3 linked regions of the Homo sapiens genome follow. The protein of the gene in region 1 purifies or fractionates together with the protein of each later gene. This does not show direct contact. Each region holds a gene or a part of one and is shown in the gene's direction. Other genes may lie near its edges.

Region 1 (8,148 bases):
TTACTGTTATGTCGCTCAGTTATTGCTGCAGAGAAAATGGTACTAATTTGCCAGGCGCAGTGGCTCACGCCTGTAATCCCAGCACTTTGGGAGGCCGAGGCGGGCGGATCACGAGGTCAGGAGATCGAGACCATCTTGGCTAACACAGTGAAACCCCGTCTCTACTAAAAATACAAAAAATTAGCTGGGCCTGGTGGCGGGCGCCTGTAGTTCCAGCTACTCCGGAGGCTGAGGCAGGAGAATGGTGTGAAGCCGGGAGGCGGAGCTTGCAGTGAGCTGAGATCGCGCCACTGCACTCCAGCCTGGGTGACAGAGCGAGATTCCGTCTCAAAAAAAAAAAAAAGTACTAATTTAATTCATAGTTTTCTTCCCTTTTTGATAATTCAAGCCTTTACATTATCAGGTCTGGTTTTAGTCATTCTTGTTTCCAATTTTAAAAATATACTTTATTACCAGTATCCCCTTTAATGGGTAACCATCTTATCCTCTACAGTATGGTTATTGCTTCAGAACAATAGATGGCTGCCTTGAACTGTTGTAGGACTTGGGTGTTGGTGACAGGTAGAGTTTTGTTTGTCAAGATTTAGTTTACTAGACTATTTATAGAATGCTACAATTTTGAGGCCTGTCTACCCTATAATTGTGGTTGTGGTGGTTTCCTGTATTCTAGTTCAGTTTTGCAATGGTCTCCAGAAGAGACCCTTACACAACATTTTACTCCCGTTGTCTAGAACTGATCAAATTAGAAGAGATCAGAATCAGAATTAGAGCAAGGGCACAGAGAAGGAACATAAAAGAACCAGGACCCTGAAATTGATAGGGAAGAGTTAATAGTCTTATGCCACCCTTAAAGTTTACTTTGTCTCCCTTATTTACCCTATCCCTAATATAAACATTGAGTGTCACTGGTGAATTAAAAGCTGGTAAATTTAGAATGTGTAGGAGTAGGTGACACTGCCTGTCAGCCGTGTGTAGGGGTGCAGAGTAAATCTTAACTAGCCCTGCTTCTCTCGCAGATTAAGGACAACTACGGATCTGTTTCTCCCATCATGTTTCCATTTTGCCCCAGGGGTAATTGTGCTTTCACTTATCAAATAAAAGTCCATTTACTGGATTGTAAATCAAATAAACCCATTGGTGTCAACTTCAATAAGTTTGAAACATTCTGAAATCTTTAAAAACAAATTCTCGGCCGGGTGCGGTGGCTCATGCCTGTAATCTCAGCACTTTGGGAGGCCGAGGCAAGTGGATCACGGGGTCAGGAGATGAGACCATCCTGGCCCGCATGGTGAAACCCCGCCTCTACTAAAAATACAAAAATTAGCTGGGCGTGGCGGCACACGCCTGTAGTCCCAGCAACTTGGGAGGCTGAGGCAGGAGAATCGCTTGAACTGGGGAGGCGGAGGTTGCAGTGAGCTGAGATCACGCCACTGTACTCCAGCCTGGCGACAGAGCAAGACTCTGTCTCAAAAAACAAATGAACAAGAAAACAAATTCTCTCAAAGGCCTCCATTCATCTCCACTATTGATGTTTAGAGTTTTCCCCCACTATTATCAATCTGCTTGTTTCCCCATTGTCTCCTATAAAGAGTGCTACATTATGTTAAAATTCCTTATTTATAGGGCAGCAACCTATTGGTGCAGGGTTTTTGGAAACATAGCCATCTTAACACATCTGTTGGTCGCAGTCCCCAGATCTAGTCCTTAAGTTGGAGCAGCCCATAGGCATATCTGCCAAATACCTATTTTTGCATATTAACTATATCTACAGAGGGAATTGAGTGAAACTCTTAGCCCAAGGTGCTAGGACTTCATCGTTTGATCCTTGAAGTTATTAGCCTTTTTTTCCCCTGAAATTGTAGTCCTAGAAGGCAAAATTTGGGGATCATATATCAAATTTGGGGTTGGTTTTCCGTGGTGGAGTTCTAGCTCTGAACAGCTACCTTGACCAGAATGTTTCTCACAACAGGTCTGGTGTCGGCGCGCCTGTTATCGGTGAGATCGATGGGGAGTATCGACATGACAGTCGACGAAATACCCTGGAGTGGTGCCTGCCTGTGATTGATGCCAAAAATAAGAGTGGCAGCCTGGAGTTTAGCATTGCTGGGCAGCCCAATGACTTCTTCCCTGTTCAAGTTTCCTTTGTCTCCAAGAAAAATTACTGTAACATACAGGTACTCCATTTTAGTTGAGAACATATATAGGGAAAGTGGTAGGACAGTAGGAACACGTATAGGATGCCAGACAGGTAGCATGGCTTTTTGTGGTCAGATAAAGCTCAGAAAAAAACTGATGTCTCCTACAGGAATTCCCTTTCTAATTCATTGTATGATCGTGGTCAAATTCTTTTATTGCTTTACCTCAGTTTTCCTCTCTAGATCAGACAAAGTAAAGAAATGGAATGTTAATACAGATAAAAGTACTTGTGGATTATGCAAGATTCATAAACACTTAGTTGCCTGTTTTTTTTTAACCTTATATATTTTAAAGTCGATTTGCCAAAACACCCCAACACATGGTTTTTTTAAGGCCTTGCTGTCACTTGATTTATACCCAAAGAATGAAATTGTTTTATTTAGAAGACAAAATTACTACAAAAAAAAAATCCATTCTATTACAAATGGAAATTATTTGAGGGTTATTTATGTCACAGCTCCCTTTATTAGTACAAATAATCATGAGCCAATTCTGTTGCAAACTCTGTCCTTTAGGTAGGCAAAGCAATGGAGATGTGTGAGCTGTTCCTTCGGATTTTTTTTTTTTTTTTTTTTTTTGAGATGGAGTTTTGCTCTTTTCACCCAGGCTGGAGTGCAATGGCGCGCTGTCAGCTCACCGCAACCTCCGCCTCCCAGGTTCAAACAATTCTCTTGCCTCAGCCTCCCAAGTAGCTGGAAATACAGGAATGCGCCACCATGCCCTGCTAATTTTTGTATATTTGGTAGAGACGGGGTTTCTCCATGTTGGTCAGGCTGGTCTTGAACTCCCGACCTCAGGTGATCTACCCGCCTCAGCCTCCCAAAGTGATGGGATTACAAGTGTGAGCCACAGTGCCCAATGGATTTTTTTCCTTTTTTTCTGAGACGGAGTCTTGCTCTGTTGCCCAGGCTGGAGTGCAGTGACATGATCTCGGCCCACTGCAACCTCTGCCTCCCGGGTTCAAGCAATTCTGTCTCAGCCTCCCCAGTAGCTGAGATTACATGCGCCTGCCACCATGCCTGGCTAATTTTTGTATTTTTAGTAGAGACAGGGTTTCACCATATCGGTCAGGCTGGTCTCGAAATCCTGACCTGAGGTGATCCGCCCACCTCAGCCTCCCAAAGTGCTGAGATTACAGGCGTGAACTACCACGCCTGGCGGATTTTTTTTTTTTTTAAGACGGAGTTTCACTCTTGTTGCCCAGGCTGGAGTGCAATGGCGTGATGTTGGTTCACTGCAACCTCTGCCTCCCAGGTTCAAGCGATTCTCCTGCCTCATCCTCCTGAGTAGCTGGGACTACCGGCATGCGCCACCACGCCTGTCTGATTTTTGTATTTTTAGTAAAGACGGTATTTCACCATGTTGGCCAGGCTGGTCTCAAACTCTTGACCTCGTGATCCAGCCACCTCGGCCTCCCAAAGTGCTAGGATTACAGGCGCGAGTCACCGCGCTCGGCCCGGATCATTATTTTTTAACTCATCATTCTTCCAGTTTTTATTGTTGTTGTTGTTTTGAGACGGAGTCTTGCTCTGTCACCAAGGCTGGAGTGCAGTGCGATCTCAGCTCACTGCAGCCTCTGCCTCCCAGGTTCAAGTGATTCTCCTGCCTCAGCCTCCCAAGTAGCTGGGACTACAGGCGTGTACTGCCACACCCAGCTAATTTTTTTTTGTATTTTTAGTAGAGATGGGGTTTCACCATGTTGGCCAGGCTGGTCTCTAACTCCTGACCTCAGATGATCCGCCCACCTCGGCTTCCCAAAGTGCTGGGATTACAGGAGTGAGCTTCCACGTCTGGCTGTTCTTCCAGTTTTTTAATTTGCATTACTAGGACCCAGTTTATATTATTAATATTCCCCTCTTTTTGACTTGCTTGTTGTTCTGGCCCTACCTTAGCTTCCCATATGGTCTCCGTCTCCCCTGTAAATGCTTAGAAAATTGCAGCTTCCTCCCTTGAATGATTCCAAAGAGCAGTTCTCTCTCCCTATCCTGTTAGTGACATAACCCCATCAGTGTTGGAAGCAACTGTATTGAACTCAAGACATTAGATAGAAATGGGTAAATTTTCCTATTGGGGCTATTCAAAGATTAGGACATTATAATTGCTCTCCCAAAACTTCATTAGAAAATACGAATCAGTGGTTCAAGTGTTGTATTGGTGCCGTTATAGGTACCATTGTTACATGTAATTAATTAAGCTGGACATTTATTTATTTAAAAAGGAAAAACCTCATTGGACCAGCCATGCCTAAAAAATAAGTATGATAGAGCAGCTTACTGGGACTTTTAACACGAGACTTTGAGAGCAGAGCAAATGAATAATGTGAAGAGCTAGAACGTTGCCTTTTGGGTCAGAATGTTAATATATCATCCTGATAGAATGTCTATGAATTTCATAGGTTATACAGGGCAGGGCTGGGCTGTGGCCACTCATTTTGGAGCTTTTACTTAATACTACGGAACATCTCGTCCCAACAGTTGTCTTTTCTCCATCTAGAAGAAAAGCAGCTTAATCATTTTGGTGGGGAAGAGTGATGCTGTGACTTTCAGTTGTGAATTGAACATTTTTCTAGTATTTTACAGTTACTTTTAATACCGCTTTTAGGGAAATTGATATGTTCTGTAATGAGAATGTAGTCAACATGATGGAGACTCAAACCTCCTGCTTTACCTTACTCTTTGTTTATTTTCCTAGGTTACCAAAGTGACCCAGGTAGATGGAAACAGCCCCGTCAGGTTTTCCACAGAGACCACTTTCCTAGTGGATAAGTATGAAATTCTGTAATACCAAGAAGAGGGAGCTGAAAAGGAAAATTTTCAGATTAATAAAGAAGACGCCAATGATGGCTGAAGAGTTTTTCCCAGATTTACAAGCCACTGGAGACCCCTTTTTTCTGATACAATGCACGATTCTCTGCGCGCAAGGACCCTCGACTCACCCCCATGTTTCAGTGTCACAGAGACATTCTTTGATAAGGAAATGGCACAAACATAAAGGGAAAGGCTGCTAATTTTCTTTGGCAGATTGTATTGGCCAGCAGGAAAGCAAGCTCTCCAGAGAATGCCCCCAGTTAAATACCTCCTCTACCTTTACCTAAGTTGCTCCTTTATTTTTATTTTATTATTATTATTATTATTATTATTATTTTTTGAGATGGAGTCTCACTTTGTAACCCAGGCTGGAATGCAATGGCATGATCTCAGCTCACTGCAACCTCCGCCTCCTGGGTTCAAGCAAGTCTCCTGCCTCAGCCTCCGAGTAGCTGGGACTACAGGTGCACGCCACCACGCCTGGCTAATTTTTTGTATTTTAGTAGAGACGGGGTTTCACCGTGTTGCCCAGGCTGGTCGCGAACTCCTGAGCTCAGGCAATCCGCCCACCTCAGCCTCCCAAAGTGTTGGGATTACAGGCATGAGCCACCATGCCCAGCTGCTCCTTTATTTTAATCCCTAAATATAATCCCTAAATATAGTTATATTTCATACTTAGTTTGTTTTTAAAAAGTTTTCTCTGTAGAAAATTTTAATCATTCATACCCTTTACCTTTAGGTTTTTCTTTCTATACATTCAGTCAGGCACTGGGATCATCTGTTTACAGGCATTATATTTATTTGGCACTCCTGGAACAAGTATATCTAACCCATTCTTGATTTTTGGACTATTCAGGTGAACTATTTGAGGGGTATGGGGTCTAGAAGTTAAAAGATACGCATGTCTTCTGTTCTTTTCCCGTATCAATTCATTCCTTCATCTCTTTGCCAAGTTGTTTTCCTTTCAGGGCCTGTCCTTCCAGTTTAGAACAGTACCATGAATCCCACTTGTGTCAATATTAAAGATAGCTGAGAAGCACCTTTCAAATGGCACAGTCCCTCTTCAAGATGTCTAAAAGAATGGTTATGTCTGTCCAGTTAGGGATTTCACATCCACATGTAATCATGTCTGCTGCTGTTGCTACCCAAATTTTCATTTCTCCACATTTTGGGTACTTAAGCTAAAACGTAATGGCCACAGTCTGTAATCCATTCACATTCCTCAGTTTCACCACCTCCCTCTTCCAGACTGCACTCTCTGTCATCAGTCCCCTCCTTTCTAACAGAAATGGGGTTATGATTTTGAAGGCTGTGGGTTCAGGGAGTCTTTGCCAATCCTGTTGGCCCTAAACTATCAAGGAGGCTCCATTTCACCATTTGATTTTTTGCATTTCAGGAGGCAACTGATTGTTTCGATATGTACATATTACTCACGTATACCCCATTTCCTTCCAGTCAGCCCAACATTTTCCACCAGTCTGTCCCCATCTCTGAAATCCTTCCTTCTCTTTCCCCCTAAGTCTTTTGAGTGTCATCATGTACTGGTGGTTTCTCGGTTCCATCTCATCCATTTCCTTTTCAATGGAGACTACAGCGTCAGCCAGCTCAGCCTTGGCTTTTAACTCAATATTCCAGTCCATAGGGGTGGTTAAAAGTTGCTGCAAGGCTGCAGGCACTGGCAGTGGGAAGAGGCAGACGACTAGATGACTTCTGCACTTTTAGCTGGTTGAAAAGTACCACTCCCACTCTGAACATCTGGCCGTCCCTGCAAAGAGTGTACTGTGCTTGAAGCAGAGCACTCACACATAAATGGCTGTGTGTGGAATTGCTTGCCAAAGAAGTTTCTAGCCTTTCCCTTTCCCCTAACTGCATCAGGGAAGAATTCTTATCTCTAGCTTGGTTTCCACATGAGGTTTTTCTGAGAAGGGCTTGGGACAAGAAGTCTGTCATGTTAGTTAAGCAGGCAAGAAATCCTACTAATCCAGTTTTGTTTGAAAGTTGTTTGTCCGTATGATTTTTTAAAAGTCAAGTTTAATTTCAAAAAACCTTTTTTTTCTGAGATTACTTTTGGGGTAATATTTAAAATGAGAGACATTTTGTAACCCTGTAAAATACATAGGGAATATAACATTCCAGTGTATACAAAGAAGGCAAATTCTTTAATCAAATAAAGCGCATTATAAAATGAGATGTTTATTGGATTATTGACTCACTTTGGTGTCTGCTTGTTGATTCAGGATGCTGTAATGGGACCTAACATTAAAAATTAATGACATGTTTTTTTTAAGAGAAAGTAATCTGTGAGAGTATTCATTGCCTTTTTCCATCTTATATGTATTGTGCTTCCTTGCGTATTTTTCTACATTTGATACATGCACTCCTGACAGTGTAGCTTTTGAATTTGATGCTACTTCTGGCCTTTTTGGGGATTGGAGTCTTAATTTTGTCAGACGGCAGTTGGAGAGTCAAAAAAGTCAGGCTTCATCTTTAATCTTGGAGTCTTGGAGTCTTCTCTTCCCCATTAGACCGTGATGAGAAGTGATCCAGGGATGAGGGATAATGGGAACAATTTTTGGGAACTGTTGATAATTCCCTCAGATAAACCTGCTTACTTTTTTTTTTTGAGATGGAGTCTCGCTTAGCTGCCCAGGTTGGAGTGTGGTGGTGCGATCTCAGCTCGCTGCAACCACGGTCGCCCAGCTTCAAGCGATTCTCCTGCCTCAGCCTCCAGAGTAGCTGGGATTACAGTCACCCGCCATCATGCCGGGCTAATTTTTTTTGTATTTTCGTAGAGACGGTTTCACCATGTTGGTCAGGCTGGTCTTGAACTCCTGGTCTCAGATGATTCGCCCACCTCTGCCTCCCAAAGTGCTGGATTACAGGCGTGAGCCACCGCGCCCAGCCTTTTTTTTTTTTTTTTTTGAGACAGTCACCAGGCTGCAGTGCAGTGACATGATTTCGGCTCACCACAACCTCCACCTCCAGGGTTCAAGTGATTCTCCTGCCTCAGCCTCCTGAGTAGCTGGGATTACAGGCATTCCACACCACCACCCCCGGCTAATTTTTGTATTTTTAGTAGAGACGGTTTCACCATGTTGGTCAGACTGGTCTCAAACTCCTGACCTCGTGATCCGCCCGCCTCAGC
Region 2 (8,148 bases), on another chromosome or scaffold:
AGGAAACACTTGATGAGAATGGTTTTAGGAGAGGTCTAGATTGCAGACAGCTGCAGAGCCTCACTGTAGGGCTGGTAGGCTTCTGCCTTCAGACAGTCTTGGAAATGTGAGGTGGGGTTGCTTATGGCAGGGTCTTTTATTTATTTTTCTTGGATTACTCACTGCCCATTCTCTGCCTCTACAATCCTTCCTTTTCCATGTCAGTATTTCTCCCTTGCCCCATGCCTTGAAGGAGAGAAATCCAAGATCCCAGGGCAAAACATAGTCACTAATCATTCTGGCTTCCAGCTCTAGTGACCCAACCCTGTCTTCTTTCCCTCTGACCAGTACTATGACGACACCTACCCCAGTGTCAAGGAGCAAAAGGCCTTTGAGAAGAACATTTTCAACAAGACCCATCGGACTGACAGTAGGTCATTTTCCTTTCACTACTACCCGTGCTGGGGGGAACCATGGTGGAAAGGGGGTGGTAACAGGGCTGCAGAGAAAGGATGAAATGACTCTGCCTTTTTCTTTTTTTTTCCTTCTTCCCCTTGTATAATAAACTCTTCAGAATGTAATGGGGAGGTGAGTGTACCTCACGCGGGAATACCATGCTGGAAGGTTGGCTGTTAGCTACCTGTCTAGTCCCTGGATTTATGAGCCTCACTTGACAAATTTAATTGCAGCTCTGCTTATTGTACCGCATCCATTAGGGCAGGTAAATGGAAGTCTGTAAAGGTGACCGCTCTGCATTTTCACCTCCGAAGGATCGACTAGTATCCTGTCTCATATACAAGTAGGGAAATAGGTATAGTGGGCAGGAACAGAGGATGGTGGTTACAGAAGATACATTTAGACTCCCCCAAGTTCATACTTCTCTTCTCCTGCCACCACCCAAAAAGTGCAGATCATCTTCTGGCTTTGGAAGTCATTACAGGCGGCCTCACCTTAGCCCAAAAGAGCTGGATACTAGGAATTCATGGTAACGCCTTCTTTTTTTTTTTTTTTTTTTTTGAGACAGAGTCTCTCTCTGTCACCCAGGCTGGAGTACAGTGGCGAGATCTCGGCTCCCTGCAACCTCCGCCTCCCAGGTTCAAGTGGTTCTCCCATCTCACCCTCCTGAGTAGCAGGGATTACAGGTGCACACCACCACGCCCGGCTAATTTTTGTATTTTTAGTAGAGACGGGGTTTCACTGTGTTGGCCAGGCTGGTCTTGAACTCCTGACCTTAGGTGATCCGCCAGGCTCGGCTTCCCAAGGTGCTGGGATTACAGGCATGAGCCACTGCGCCTGGCTGGTAACTCCTTCTTTCCTACTTCCTTATCTCAAGCCACCCACTATTTTTACTTTTTTTCCCCCACCAGGTGAAATTGCCCTCTTGGAAGGCCTGACAGTGGTATACAAAAGCAGTATAGATCTCTATTTCTATGTGATTGGCAGCTCCTATGAAAATGAGGTGAGAATCCCCACCCCTCTTTGCTATTTCTGATCCTACTTTCTAAACCACAGGCAGTACATAGCCACTGGTTTGGGGCCCTAATAGAGCCGTGTTCCTCTGGCTTCTGACCAAGCTAATGAAGTTGTCAGAGATCCCACCAGCCTCACAAACATGGCCCGGCAAATGAATCGCCTAGAAAGGAAGTTTTCCTAGATTAATCTTTTGCATCCATTAGGAAACATCATATATGTTTTAATACCTTTCCCTGAGTAGTGTTTTTTAAGATGGATTTCTGAGGTATGGTCAAGACTGCAGGGGGATACTTGCTTCTTCTATGAAGGGTCCATACCTGACTGAGTTTGAGCCAATTAGCTAACAACCTGGGTCATGTTGAAACCATACATTCTGAATGGATCACTGGAGAAGACCTTGGGTATAGTCCTAACCTGCTTCCTATATGCAGGAAAAGCTGTTTGCCTCAGATAGCAACTTCTAGGAGAATAGATAAATAAAAATAAGCCCCCAGATAATTTGAGGCAAAAGTGAAAGTTTGAGAAAGTCAACTCTTACTGAGCTCTTATTATTGGTATAAGTGCTTTGTAAAGTATATTGTTATTTAAACCTCATAGCACTTCTATGAGTTGTAGGCATTGGTGCCTTTGTTTTACAAATGAGGAAACCAAACCATGAAGAACTATATGAAATTACTTGTATGTGACCATTGAGAAAAGTACAAAAGTGGCAGTTATCTGATGTGGTTCAACCTAGTAACTTTCTCAGGGTCACACATGTAGAAAATGGCTCAGCTTGGATTCCAACCCATATCTGTCTGACTTAAAGTCCATGCTTTTTAAAAAATTTTGAGACATAGGCCGAACGTGGTGGCTCACACCTGTAATCCCAGCACTTTGGGAGGCCAAGGTGGGCGGATCACTTGAGGTCAGGAGTTCGCGACCAGGCTGGCCAACATGGCGAAATCCCATCTCTACTAAAAATACAGGCCAGGCATGGTGGCTCACACCTGTAATCCCAGCACTTTGGGAGGCCGAGGCAGGCGGATCACGAAGTCAGGAGATTGAGACCATCCTGGCTAACACAGTGAAACCCCATGTCTACTAAAAATGCAAAAAATTAGCTGGGCGTGGTGCGGGCACCTGTAGTCCCAGCTACTCGGGAGGTTGAGGCAGGAGAATGGCATGAACCTGGGAGGCGGAGGTTGCAGTGAGCCGAGATCATACCACTGCATTCCAGCCTGGGCAACAGAGCGAGACTCCGTCTCAAACAAACAAACAACAACAACAACAAAAATTAGCTGGGCGTGGTGGTGGGCGCCTGTAATCCCAGCTACTTGGGAGGCTGAGGCAAGAGAATTGCTTGAACCTGGGAGGTGGAGGTTGCAGTGAGCTGAGATTGCGCCATTGCACTCCAGCCTGGGTGACAGAGCCAGACTCTCAAAAAAAAAAAAAAAATTTGAGACAGGGTCTTGTTCTGTCTCCCAGGCTGGACTGCAGTGGTGCGATCTTGGCTCACTGCAACCTCTGGCTCCCAGGCTCAAGTGATTCTACCACCTTAGCCTCCCAAGTAGCTGGGACTGCAGGTGCCCACCACCATGCCTGGCTAATTTTTTTTTGTATTGTTTGTAGACAGGGTTTTGCCATGTTGCCCAGGCTGGTCTCAACTCCTGAGCTCAAGCAATCGGCCTGCTGCAGCCTCCGAAAGTGCTGGGATAGAGTCAGAGTCTAGACAGGGTCTAGACGTTACAGGTGTGACCCACTGTGCCCAGCCAATTAAAGTCCATGCTTTTTACACTAACTCTGAAGCCTTCCTCTGACCTCAGCTATTGCTTGGTTAGTAATTTCTCTACCTAAGACATCAGGTAACACATATACAGTTGGTGAAGACATTGTAGAGGACTGTGACAGGGAAGTTCTGTTTAAACTTTTGGCTAAAAGATGTTGAATTGTGGAATCATGTAGCAGAATTTATTTCTGTGAGAAATCACAGATCCTTTTCCTGTTGTGCTCTCACTTCCACTTTATGTTTTTGGTCCTTTGTGAAAGCCTGTGTCTTTTGATGTTTAATGAATTAGGAGGTTTTGTTTTTAGGTAGCAGCTTTCAGGGCCTTGAACCTTATCCTTCTGCCTCCTCTGTTTCCCAACAGCTGATGCTTATGGCTGTTCTGAACTGTCTCTTCGACTCATTGAGCCAGATGCTGAGGTGAGCAGGACATTCTTTTTTTTCCCCTCAAGTTATGATGGAAAGAGCAGGGCATTGTTGATTTCTTTTTGGGAGATAAAGTAACCATTCTTCAGGCCCAGGGATTGTAGGGGATTGGCAAAGGCTCCAGGGAGTTGATTTAGTTTTAGAAGTTGGGTTTTGCCGGGCTCAGTGGCTCACGTTCGTAATCCCAGTACTTTGGGAGGCCAAGGCGGGCGGATCATGAGGTCAGGAGATTGAGACCATCCTGGTTAACATGGGGAAACCCTGTCTCCACTAAAAATACAAAAAATTAGCCGGGCATGGTAGCGGGCGCCTGTAGTCCCAGGTGCTTGGGAGGCTGAGGCAGGCGAATGGCATGAACCTGGGAGGCGGAGCTTGCAGTGAGCCGAGATCGCGCCACTGCACTCCAGCCTTGGCGACAGAGTGAGACTCTGTCTCAAAAAAAAAAAAAAAAGTTGGGTTTATTAATTCACAGTAATTCATGCTACTGGGGAGGACTGGATGGAGAGTATGTCCCTCCCATAGAATAATTCTCTTACTAAGTAAGGGGACTGGGAGGGAGCCGAATCTTTACCTCTGTGTTTACTCTTGTAATCCCCTGTGGTCCTGTCAGATCTGAGCATCCTCAAGGTGCTTTCCTGGGCTTCATTCTTGACATTAGAAGTAGGGAAAGGCCAAGCATAAGGAAGTGTCCCAGATGAAATGTCATTCAGTACTTCAGGAATGGAAGCAACACTCCCAATTTTTTTTTCTTTTTTTTTTTTTTTGAGATGGAGTCTCACTCTGTCACCCAGGCTGGAGTGCAGTGGCGTGATCTCGGCTCACTGCAACCTCTGCCTCCCAGGTTCAAGCGATTCTCCTGCCTCAGCCTCCCGAGTAGAGTAGCTGCAATTATAGGCACGTGCCACCACGCCTGGCTAATTTTTGTATTTTTAGTGGAGACAGGGTTTTACCATGTTGGCCAGGCTGGTCTTGAACTCCTGACCTCAAATGATCCACCTACCTTGGCCTCCCAAAGTGCTGGGATTATAGGCATGAGCCACTTAGACCAGTTTTTTTTTGACTTCTAGTCCTTGTTTTTTCCCTTCTGTAGAACAGGAAGCACCCAGGCAGGAGGACTGCATGAGTCGAGTTCAAGACAAGCTTGGGCAACACAGTGAGACCCTGTCTCTGCAAAAAATAAAAAAATTAGCCAGGTGTGGTGGTGCATACCTGTAGTCTCAGCTACTTGGGAGGCTGAGGTAGGAAGATTGCTTGAGCCCAGGAGGTTGAGGCTGCAGTGAGCTGTGATCATGCTACTGCACTCCAGCCTAGGTGACATAGCAAGACCCTGTCTCAAAAAACAAAACAAAACAAAAAACAGGAAGCTTCTGCCATTTACCCTCTCCTCCCTTTCCACCTTCCCACTAGCCCTCTGTTCTCTGTTACCCGTGTAGATGGGTAATAGAAGAGATATAAGTTACTTTTCCTGAAAACATCCAGGGCTCTGAACTTCATTCCCCCAGCAGCTCCCAAGTGAACCCAGTACAGACAGCCATCCAGACCAGAACAGCAGGCACTCTCAGCCCTGCAAAATCAGCAGGGTGAATGGCTCAGATTTCCTCAGGAAGGGGATGATTTATTTCTTATCCAGGTGAATGAATAGTAATTCATTCGGGTAATCTAGTGAAAGACTCAAACTGACAGATGTGACAGGCCACATGCACCAACCAACGGATCTGAGGCTGGTGTATGCAGACCCTGCCCCCTCTTTGGGCTTCTTTTCAGGGCCTGAGCAGAGCTGGTAAGGGATAGGGAGAAGAGGGAACAGAGAATGTCTCAGGAGGTTTGTCAGAGCTTGAGTACAAATAAGGTTTGCATTGAACCCCTCTCACCTCCGGCCACCTCCAGACTGAGTCTTAGCTCTGTTTATATTGTTTTTTTCCACCCACTGATGTCAGTGTTTATGAGCAATGTTATGAGCAGCATCATGGCAGGTAGGAAAGAAATAATAGCGTGGATAATCAACCCCTGAATAGTCAGAAATTGACTGTGTTATTTGAATCTCTTTCCATACATTCCTTATTCAGCAAACGAGTAGAAAGGGGTTTTGAGTGAACTAGCTAAAAAGTTCTTCACCTTATTTACTTCTTTGTGTGGTTGGTGGAGATGTTTATTGGTCTAGTTTAGGTTCCTCAATTGAGACAAGGTCCTAGGATTTCTTTCACATACAAGTTGGTTATTCTCTTCTCTTCTCTTGGGGACTCAGGAAAAATGTAGAAAAGCGAGCACTGCTGGAGAACATGGAGGGGCTGTTCTTGGCTGTGGATGAAATTGTAGATGGAGGGTAAGTTCTCTGACCTGCCTTGATCTTGGGTGAGGTGGCGGGATAACTGCCCCTGTCCTAAGTCAAGCAGGCTCAGTGGCCAGAGGTCCTGTTCCCCGACAGTGAGTTGGGCCTTCGGGACAGAGTGAACAATGATCTCTTCTTTGTTTTTGCAGGGTGATCCTAGAGAGTGATCCCCAGCAGGTGGTACACCGGGTGGCATTAAGGGTAAGCAAGAATGTGTTTCTTTGCATCCCCGCATCTATTCACAAACACCCTCCAGAGCCAGACCTGCTGGATGTGTCCAGTAGTTGGGGCTCATAGGATACATACAACCTTCTCTTTTTCTTTCAAATACATTCAGCCTTTCTCTTCCCTTCTCTTCTTATTGTCCCAAAGAAAGAAGCAGAAATAACTTATTTCTACCCCTAATATGGTGCCTAACATCTCATACAGTCTTTGCACAAAGTGGACATTTAATACATACTTATTTAATAAATGATAAAATAAACTTTAATATTTATGGTTTTGAAATTATAAAGCAACTTGAAGTTGGCTTATTCCCTTCTTGGAGATGGATCCAGTCATCTGAGGCAGAGGAGTGTCTGTTTTGTCTTTTAAAGTGTTACATAGGACTGAGCGTGGTGGCTCACACCTGTAATCCCAGCACTTTGGGAAGCCGAGGCTGGCGGATCACAAGGTCAGGAGTTCGAGACCAGCCTGACCAACATGGTGAAACCCTGTCTCTACTAAAGACACAAAAATTAGCTGGGCATGGTGGTGCGTGCCTGTGATCCCAGCTACTCAGGAGGCTAAGGCAGGAGAATTGCTTGAGCCCGGGAGGTGGAGGTTGCAGTGAGCCGAGATTGCACCACTGCACTCCAGCCTGGGCGACAGAGTGAGACTCTGTCTCAAAAAAAATAAATAAATAAAATAATAATAATAAAGTGTTACATAACTGAGGATGGTACCTCTCCATTAGGAAGTACTTATTTGCCAGAACCTCAGTCCTCTTTGGTGCTGGTGATATCAGAAAGGGGCCTCTGAGTTAACCATAGAAGGCCCCAGGTCAGCTGAGGAGATAATGGTGGATGCAGAGAGAGCCCACCAACAAATTATACGGGTGCAAAGATGTCTGAGCAAAGCAAATCTCCCCATTCACAGAATGTCCTGGCTCTGACCTCCACAGAGTGAAGGCTGACAGTGCTTGGTAATGGGAAATCTCTCTTAACTGCTGTGGGCTCCATTTGCATAGTTTAATCTTCTCCTCTAACATATGTCTCTGTGTGGCAAGAGAGAGGGTCCCCCCCATCAACTCCCCGCTTTGTCTTCTTAGGCTGCTGTTGCAGCAGTTTATTTCTTCAAATTAACATGCTGTCGTTACCCATCAGGCTTTGCGGGATCCATTAAACCACTCCTGGCTCCCCCTCATCCTTTCCCTAGTGATACTGATATTCAGAAAAGGCCTTTTCTGACTAGGGAATCAGGTCCTCCACCCCCACGTTAAGGGAGTTGAGGATCAGATAACCTGCTGGTTACTCTGAATGGAGTTAAATCTTTTAAGAAGTCCTCCTGCCTTAAAATGGAAGCTGGATGAAATGACCCTTTTTTGTTCATAGTCCCTCTGGCCAAGTAAAATTGTAGCTGTACTAGTCCCTAGAAGGGACTGAGAAGTTCAGTGCATCTGCCCTTTGTTTCAGTTTAAAGGATCACTTTTTTCTTCTCTAATACCAGACTCCAATCAGGTCTTACTCCAGCTTTCTCCCACACTAAATGCTTGTATCTCTGTGCCATAGGGTGAAGATGTCCCCCTTACGGAGCAGACCGTGTCTCAGGTATGACTCTCCCTTCTTCCTTTCCAGATGGACTGGGTCACTAAAGAGGCTAGAACAGCATTCCACCCATACCTCTCAAATCTGAGTGAAACTAGAGACTCAAGACACATCTTCCTTGGCTCCCTCTTATTCCAGAGAACTGGGACTCATACAGCCAGCCACTCCCTACCCCTACTTCCAACTCCTTTCTCAGTTACCTGTGAGCAGTGGCTGTCAGCCTTGCTCTGTACCCTTCAAACCCTCCCTGCCTGCCTGATGCCTCATTCAGTGATTTATTCCCCAGCAGAGGCTTGCCTTAAGCAGATGGTCTGTGTGCATTTGTGCACACACACTCTCTTTCTCTTATTATTCAATTGAGGGCTAAGCTG
Region 3 (8,148 bases), on another chromosome or scaffold:
GGGTGGGTGAGGCCACGCCTGTCCTGCCCCTGAGCCACAGGCCAGCGTTGGTCAAACGCCCATGGGCGGCAGCCAAGGGGAGAGGGGGCTGGGCTGTGGGGACCCAGGAACCTTGCCCCCTCCTGCTGTGGGGTCGGAGTGAGGGTCTGGCATGGGGAGACTGCTGTGATCCTGCTCTTCCTTGGCCCACGGAGGCAGTGTCCCAACTACCGCCTCCCTTCACTCAAAGAAACCTGGGGTTCCTGGGAGCTGACTCCTGTGCAGAGGCAGCATGGTGGGGTGAATGGTGTCCCCCAAAAGGTACGTCCATATCCTATCCCACATGCTTGTGAATATGATATCATTTGGAAAAAGGGTCTTTGCCGATCAGATTAAGAGATAAGGAGATGAAGACATGCTGGATTTAGGGTGGGCCCCAAAGCCAAGGACTTGTGTCCTTTTAAGAGATAAAAGGAGGGCTGGGTGCAGTGGCTCATACTTGTAATCCCAGCACTTTGGGAGGACGAGGTGGGCAGATCACCTGAGGTCAGGAGTTTTCAAGACCAGCCTGGCCAACGTGGTGAAACCCCATTTCTATTAAAAATACAGAATTAACAGGATGTGATGTCTGTGATTCCAGCTACTTGGGAGGCTGAGGCAGGAGAATCGCTTGAACCTGGCAGGCAGAGGTTGCAGTGAGCCAAGATCGCACTAGTGCACTCCAGCCTGGGTGACAGCGGGAGACTGTCTTAAAAAAAAAAAAAAAAAAAGGAAAGAGGCCCACAGAGTTAAGCCCATGTGACAACAGACTGGAGTGACATGTCTGCTAGCCAAGGAGCACCACGAGTGGCCAGCAGCCACCAGAGCTGGGAGAGAGGCCTGGGACGGCCTTGCCCTCCAGCCTCCAGCTGGAGCCAGCCCTGCCGCCACCTTGACTTCAGACTTACGGCCTCCAGAGCTGTGAGGAACGAATCCCTGTTGTCCTTAACTGCCCGGGCTGTGGTGCTTTGCCACAGCAGCTCCAGGACATTGAGACAGGTGACCTCCCAGGGCCACTGTTTCTCCCACCCTGCACTTACTTCACCAGCTGGAGTGAAGGCAGGGAACCCTGGGTCCCCCAGGAGCAGCAGCTGCTGTGAGCATCACAGAAAAGCAGCCCCGGAGAGCAGGCGGTCCAGGCAGGGGCTTGTGGTCCGTTCATCTGGCTGCACAGCCGCGACCTCATTGGCAGGACGCCCCGGGGACAAGGAGCATCCATTAGTAATTGGTTTTGGTTTTGATTTTGTTTTCTTGAGATACGGTCTTGCTCTGTCGTTCAGCCTGGCATACAGTGGCACAATCTTGGCTTACTGCAGCCTTGATCTCCCAGGCTCAAGTGATCATCCCACCTCAGCCTCCCGAATAGCTGGGACTACAGGCACGCATCACCATGCCTGGCTAATTTGTATATTTTTTAGAGATGGGGTTTTGCCTGGCCGGGCGCAGTGGCTCACACCTGTAATCCCAGCACTTTGGGAGGCCGAGGCGGGCGGATCACGAGGTCAGGAGATGGAGACCATCCTGGCTAACACGTGAAACCCCATCTCTACTAAAAATACAAAAAAAATTAGCCGGGCATGGTGGCGGGTGCCTGTAGTCCCAGCTACTCGGGAGGCTGAGGCGGGAGAATGGCATGAACCCGGGAGGCGGAGCTTGCAGTGAGCCAAGATCGCACCACTGCACTCCAGCCTGGGCGAAAGTGCGAGACTCCGTCTCAAAAAAAAAAAAAGAGAGATGGGGTTTTGCCATGTTGCCCAGGCTGGTCTCAAACTCCTGGGCTCAAGCGATCCGCCCAGTAATTGATTTTGTTGCTGTTGCTTGTTTTTGAGATGGTCTCCCTCTGTCACCCAGGCTGGAGTGCAGAGGTGTGACCACAGCTCACCGCAGCTTCAACCTCCCGGGCTGAAGCCATCCTCCTGCCTCAGCCTCCCAAGTAGTTGGGACTACAGGCGCCACCAGGCCCAGCTGACTTTCTTACTTTTTTGTAGAAAAAGGGGTCCTACTATGTTGCCCAGGGTGGTCTTGAACTCCTGGGCTTAAGCGATCCTGCCTTGGCCTCCCAAAGCGCTGGGGTTACAGGTGTGAGCCACAGTACCCGGCCCCATTGGTAATTGTAACACCTTAGGATGACAACATTACAGTACCAACGCTACGACAACTGGCAGTGTTTATACACCCTTGTGTGCTGGAGCCTCAGGAAGCTTTGTAAGATGGTCTTGGGAGCTCCTTGCTCCTCCCCTGCATGATCCCTGTAACATGGTCCCTCAGCACGGGGAAACAGACTCAGACCTGAAGTCACTTGTCTGTTGGACCTGGCACTGTGGCGAGCCCTCAGTGGAGCCTGGTTGGTATCAGACATGCCATGCCCTCAGTGACACCTCAGACACGGGCCCTGGGCAGACAGCCCCCAGATGCGCGTGGATGCTTACGGGGTCACAGAGCCACGTTTGAACCCAGAAGAACACCAGCTTTGGTCTAGGGTGGCCCCCTCACCTGCCTTCTCTTTTTAGCTGCTCAATAGCCATGGGGAATGGAGGGTCTGGGTCCAGTTAGGGACATGGAGGCATGGGTGACCTGTGCCCTCGGAGCTGAGCCGGTCCTCAGCCTTGCCTGGGCTCAAGCCTGGCCCTGGCCCGCAGCACACTGGCCATCTTCAGGGTGCAGCCAGCACCCTGGGCTCTCAGGGACTGAGGGCAGCTGCCCTGGCAGTGGGGGTGCCCCAGGGCTCCCATCCTTCTGCACGGCCCCTCGGCACCCAGGCCGACCTCCTGCTAGAAGACGTGGCCTTGAAGCCCACAGGGTTGATGGGTTATGGTCAGGAGTCCCAGCTGGGCCCACCAGCCTCCTCAGGAAGGCGGGTGAGGTTGGTGTGAGACTGACGGTGCCTCCTCATGTCCCCTTGGAGCGCCCCACCCCACATCTCCCGGCCTCGGGTCCTTGCCTGGCCCAGCATGAGAGGTGCTTCATAGGAACGGAGGGAGGACATGTCGGGACAGCTCGATGCTCGGCCTGCTGCTGCTCTGCACCCCCAGGGCCTGGCTCACCCTCTCTGGACCTGTCTGCTTCCAAGGAAGGGGACCCTCTGAGGTCCCACAGAGGCCACCCCAGCTGTGGGTCGTGAGCATCTCTGTCTTGCAGGGACAGCATCGTGGCCGAGCTGGACCGAGAGATGAGCAGGAGCGTGGACGTGACCAACACCACCTTCCTGCTCATGGCCGCCTCCATCTATCTCCACGACCAGAACCCGGATGCCGCCCTGCGTGCGCTGCACCAGGGGGACAGCCTGGAGTGGTGAGTGGCCTCCCTGCTCTGGGGCCAGCCCAGGGAGGCAAGTGCCCCCTGCCACATCTCCAGGCTGCGCACGGCCTCGCTGGCTGTCGTCATGGGAGCAGAGAAAGGTGGTGCTGAAATGAGGCCCTGGCCTGCTGTCCAGGCTCCAGCTCCCCTGCCCAGTGTGGGAGGCACTCCCATCTGCGCACCAGGCTGCAGATCCAAGGACACGGTGCCCAGGCTGCAACCCTCTGTTCCCAAGGGCAGAGCAGAAAGCGGCTTTGTCTCTGCTCGGTTTCTGTGTCCCCACCCCCCACGAAGCCTTCTGTGTCTCGGCCCTGGGCCCAGTCTCTCAGGCCTCCCCGGGCCCCCCATACCGGCCCTCCTCCAGGGCCCTCTGGGGTTGGGGTGCTGAAGCCCTGCAAGGTTGGTGCCCCCCTCCACCCTAGGATGTGACTCCGGGCCATGTCCAGGGCACTGGTCACAGAAAGTGTGTCAGTTCTTCCCCGTGAGCTGTCCCTGCAGTGCCTGCCTTCCACTGTGAGTTGCAAGCTGGGCATTTCATGGTCGCTGTGGATCTGCTCCCATCCCACCTCCATCCACAGAGGGCTTAGAATTGCAGGGCGAGCCAGGCATGGTGACATGCACCTATGTTTCCAGCTACTTGGGAGGCGGAAGCAGGAGTATCCCTTGAGTCTGGGAGGTGGAGGCTGCAGTGAGCCGTGATGGTGCCACTGCACTCCAGCCTGGGTGGCAGAGCCAGACCCTGACTCACACACAAAAAAGAAAATAAATAGGGATGTCACACTGTCGGCGAGCCGGCCGACTCGGTGCTGGTCCAGGTGCTGGCTCCTGTTGGCAGGAAAACAAGAACAAGAGGCCTCACGAGTAATTCGTGGTCACAGCCACCTGGGGCTGAGAGGGATGAGGGGACGAGGGGGCCTGCAGAGAGTGGGTGGCCCCAGGGCTCTGCTGCAGGTGCAGGTGCAGGGGCGGGTGCGTGGCCCTCCTCTAGGGCCTTGTTCCTGAGTGTTGATGCCTCCAGGGTGTCGAGTCCGGGCAGGGCCCTCCATCTGGAAGCACAGCCCATGGAGGCTGCTTCTCCAGATGGGCGGTGAGTGGGCCGGGGCCTGAAACCCCATCCTGGGTACCTCCCCCAGAGCTCCTGGGCCTGAGGAAGCTGAGCGGTGAAATGTGGGAGTGAGGGTGTCCTCCTCTGCTGGGCGGGGCTGGTGGTCCTAAGCACAGGACTTAGGAACATCCCAGACACACACAGTGAGCCCTGGGTGTGGAGCGGCCATGCAATGTGTCTGTGGCGACCCGCTGACCGCCCCCTCGCCCTGTCCTGCAGCACAGCCATGACAGTGCAGATCCTGCTGAAGCTGGACCGCCTGGACCTCGCCCGGTGAGCCCTCCTGCCCCTCTCCACCCGCACTGAGCCACAGCCCAGAGCGTCACAGCCCAGAGCGTCACAGCCCAGAGCGTCTGTGGTGCTGTCATTACTCTTGTTGTCTTTCCTTTCCATGGGGGTGGCTTGCTGTCGTTCAGCCCTTCCCTGCAGTATGTTGCCAGGGAGGAGGGCCATGGCTCTCTGTGCCTCAGTTTCTCTCTATGCAGTGGGTGGCAGGCCTCTCCCACAGGGTGAGGGTGGGCTTCATGGAGGGAGAGTGGAGGTTGTGCCTGGAGCAACATGTTACTTGACCAGCTTGTAACTGTGCCGTGGGGCTGGCGGGGCCTGCACGTGGCATCACCAGGTCGGAGGCCATGGCTGGGGGTCCAGGACTCCCCTGCTGCCGTTTCCAAAGCCCTTGCCTCAGAGTTGTTCACACTGTAGTTCCGTTGCCCTTCCCTGCGTTCCATCCTCCATGGAGTGAGTCTCTCCTGAGCTCTACCTTGTGGTGGCCACCCTGGGGGGCCATAGCTGGCCCCAGTCCCACCTTCCCAGGGCCTGCACGTGGTCAGACGGGCAGGGTGGCTCGGGCACTTAGTCGTGGGGTATGAGCATGCAGTGGAGCACAAAGCAGGGGCCATCCCCAGGCTCCGGTGGGCCCCAAGTGGGGACAAGGCAGGGATGGCCAGGCCAGGGCCCTCGGCCACTCAGCCCCTCTGTCATCTGTCCCCGCCCCAGGAAGGAGCTGAAGAGAATGCAGGACCTGGACGAGGATGCCACCCTCACCCAGCTCGCCACTGCCTGGGTCAGCCTGGCCACGGTGAGCCCTAGGCCATGAGGTGGGTGGGCATTGCGGGCACCTGGCTGAGCAGGGTCTGTGGGCACCCCCACCTGTGCGTAGGCTGCTGGCCACTCCAGTGGGGCTCCAGGATCAGGCCGTGGCCCCTGCCAGCCTGGCATAACTCAGCCTTGACTCCATTCCGGGCTTCTCACAGCCAAGCGACTTGGCCAGAGCCAGAGCGAAGAGATGGTGGGGGCGGGGACGGGTTCCTGAGCCTGAGGCACAGGGGTACTCGAGGGTCTGGGTTGGCCTGGCAGGCCCTCCTCCCCTCAGGGCTTCCTGGGGTTTTCTGCGACTCAGCTTTGCTCTCCAGGGTCCTGGTCGCCAGCCAGGGACGGAGTTCAGTGTTCCCATAGCAGCGGTGGAGATGTCCTCAGCTCCCAGGCCTGGGCACCTCCGCCCGGCAACAGCCCCTCTCCTGGTTTCTGGGACTTGGCCCCCTTCTGAGCCACTCTTTTGTGTGGGCCTATTAAAATGTGCTTCCTGGCTGGTCGCAGTGGCTCACGCCTGTAATCCCAGCACTTCGGGAGGCCGAGGCGGGTGGATCATGTGAGGTTGGGAGTTCTAGACCAGCCTGACCAACATGGAGAAACCCCATCTTTACCAAAAATACAAAATTAGCTGGGCTTGGTGCCATGCACCTGTAAACCCAGCTACTCAGGAGGCTGAGGCAGGAGAATCGCTTGAACCCGGGAGGTGGAGGTTGCGGTGAGCCAAGATCGCGCCAGTGCACTCCTGCCTGAGCAACAAGAGTGAAACTCTGAGAAAGAAAAAAAAATGTGCTCCCCGTCCCTGCCCGCCACGGGGCTGAAGCCTCACCCAGACAGACTTCCAGTGACCGTCTAGTATGGTAGGACAGGCCCCGGCAGACCTATCGGGTAGTTTGGGCTGTTTTCACTGCCTGCCTTGGCCTCAGGCTCCCCCTGCAAGTGTTCTGCTGTTCTGAGCAAGTGGACAGGTCAGGGCTGCTGGTCACAGAGCTGACTCCTCCTCCTCTGACGTGCTCAGTGACCCAGTGGTCCCCACTCAGACCCTGAGCCAGCCACCTGTGCACTGAGGCCTTGGAAGCCCCAGATTCCACCTCTGTGTACTCAGCACTCCGGGAGCTGGGTGGGAGGTGGGGCAGGAGGCGGCCACGAGTCTTTAGGCCCCATCAGCAGAGTACAAGTTACGGGTAGTCCCCATGGCGGAGTGGCTGTGCCTTGAACCGGGCACACCAGATTCGTCTCTGTGCAGTGCTGGAGTCCCCCCCGCTAGGGGAGGGGGCTGGCGGGGGAAGGGCCGGGCAGCAGGGGCACAGGCAATGATGCGGGACCCTCCCTGCAGGGTGGTGAGAAGCTGCAGGATGCCTACTACATCTTCCAGGAGATGGCTGACAAGTGCTCGCCCACCCTGCTGCTGCTCAATGGGCAGGCGGCCTGCCACATGGCCCAGGGCCGCTGGGAGGCCGCTGAGGGCCTGCTGCAGGAGGCGCTAGACAAGGTAGGCACAAGCCTGTCCCAGAGTGGGGACGGAGGGAAGGCCAGGCGGCCAGAGGGTGGGGTCAGGGCGGACAGAAACAAGTGTAGCAGAGACCCCCTGGGTGTGCGTGTGGCCCCACAGGGCTTCTAAGGCCCAGTCAGCAGCGAGATCCACAAAGCAGGGATCTCACCTGCAAAGAAATCCAGATTCCGGCCTCACAGAAATGGGGCATCTGGGCAGCCTGGGCCTCAGTGGTCTGAGCCGTCCTTGTTGTCACCTCAGCTGCCTGGCCCGGGACCTGCAAGTGGGACCCCTCACCTGAGTACATACTCAGTATTGGAGAGACACTCCCCGTACTTATGTAGGGGAGAGTGTGCTGTGGACAGGAGCTCTTCGTTGAGAGAGCGCTGCCTGCCCAGGGTGGCTGCAGTCATCTCCTGCCTGATGTCTGCAGTCTTTTCTTCCTTCCTTCCTTCCTTCCTTCCTTCCTTCCTTCCTTCCTTCCTTCCTTCCTTCTTTCCCTTCCTTCCTTCCTTCCTTTCCTTCCTTTCCTTCCTTTCCTTCCTTTCCTTTCCTTCCTTTCCTTCCTTTCCTTCCTTTCCTTTCTTCTTTTTTTTTTTTTTTGAGATGGAGTCTCACTCTGTCACCCAGGCTGCAGTGCAGTGGTGTGATCTCAGCTCAATGCAACCTCCGCCTCCTGGGTTCAAGTGATTCTTTTGCCTCAGCCTCCCAAGTAGCTGGGATTACAGGCGGCTGCCACCACGCCTGGCTAATTTTTGTATTTTTAGTAGAGACGGGGTTTTGCCATGTTGGTCAGGCTGGTCTCAAACTCCTGACCTCAGGTGATCCACCCGCCTCAGCCTCCCAAAGTGCTGGGATTATAGGCGTGAGCCACCACGCCTGGCCATCTGCAGTCTTTATGAAGAGTTTATGTTATGTTAAATTAAAAATATATATATATTTTGTAAAGACGGGGTTGTTCTTGCTGTGTTGCCCAGGTTGGTCTCGAACTCCTGGCCTCAAGTGATCGTCCCACCTCAGCCTCCCAAAGCATTAGGATTATAGGTGTGAGCCACCATGCTTGGTGGATTTTTTTTTTTTTTTTTTTTGAGATGGAGTCTTGCTCTGTCGCCCAGGCTGGAGTGCAGTGGTGTGATCTCGGCTCACT

Evidence for each region.
Region 2: the proteins of ARCN1 (region 1) and COPZ1 fractionate together in Homo sapiens (co-fractionation; 5 studies listed by BioGRID and IntAct, with this or other methods). This does not show direct contact.
Region 3: the proteins of ARCN1 (region 1) and COPE purify together in Homo sapiens (affinity purification with mass spectrometry; 4 studies listed by BioGRID and IntAct, with this or other methods). This does not show direct contact.

Annotation. Positions count from the first base shown.
Region 1 is NC_000011.10:118,595,738-118,603,885, forward strand, and holds the end of ARCN1 (coatomer subunit delta), read left to right. Parts: intron 1-1,969; coding exon 1,970-2,174; intron 2,175-4,887; coding exon 4,888-4,977; 3' UTR 4,978-7,296; downstream 7,297-8,148. UniProt on the Homo sapiens protein: Component of the coatomer, a cytosolic protein complex that binds to dilysine motifs and reversibly associates with Golgi non-clathrin-coated vesicles, which further mediate biosynthetic protein transport from the ER, via the Golgi up to the trans Golgi network.
Region 2 is NC_000012.12:54,341,879-54,350,026, forward strand, and holds part of COPZ1 (coatomer subunit zeta-1), read left to right. Parts: intron 1-327; coding exon 328-409; intron 410-1,346; coding exon 1,347-1,438; intron 1,439-3,581; coding exon 3,582-3,637; intron 3,638-5,888; coding exon 5,889-5,966; intron 5,967-6,121; coding exon 6,122-6,173; intron 6,174-7,741; coding exon 7,742-7,780; intron 7,781-8,148. UniProt on the Homo sapiens protein: The coatomer is a cytosolic protein complex that binds to dilysine motifs and reversibly associates with Golgi non-clathrin-coated vesicles, which further mediate biosynthetic protein transport from the ER, via the Golgi up to the trans Golgi network.
Region 3 is NC_000019.10:18,902,121-18,910,268, reverse strand, and holds part of COPE (coatomer subunit epsilon), read left to right. Parts: intron 1-3,156; coding exon 3,157-3,309; intron 3,310-4,333; coding exon of another isoform or gene 4,334-4,402; intron 4,403-4,639; coding exon 4,640-4,693; intron 4,694-5,416; coding exon 5,417-5,498; intron 5,499-6,845; coding exon 6,846-7,001; intron 7,002-8,148. UniProt on the Homo sapiens protein: The coatomer is a cytosolic protein complex that binds to dilysine motifs and reversibly associates with Golgi non-clathrin-coated vesicles, which further mediate biosynthetic protein transport from the ER, via the Golgi up to the trans Golgi network.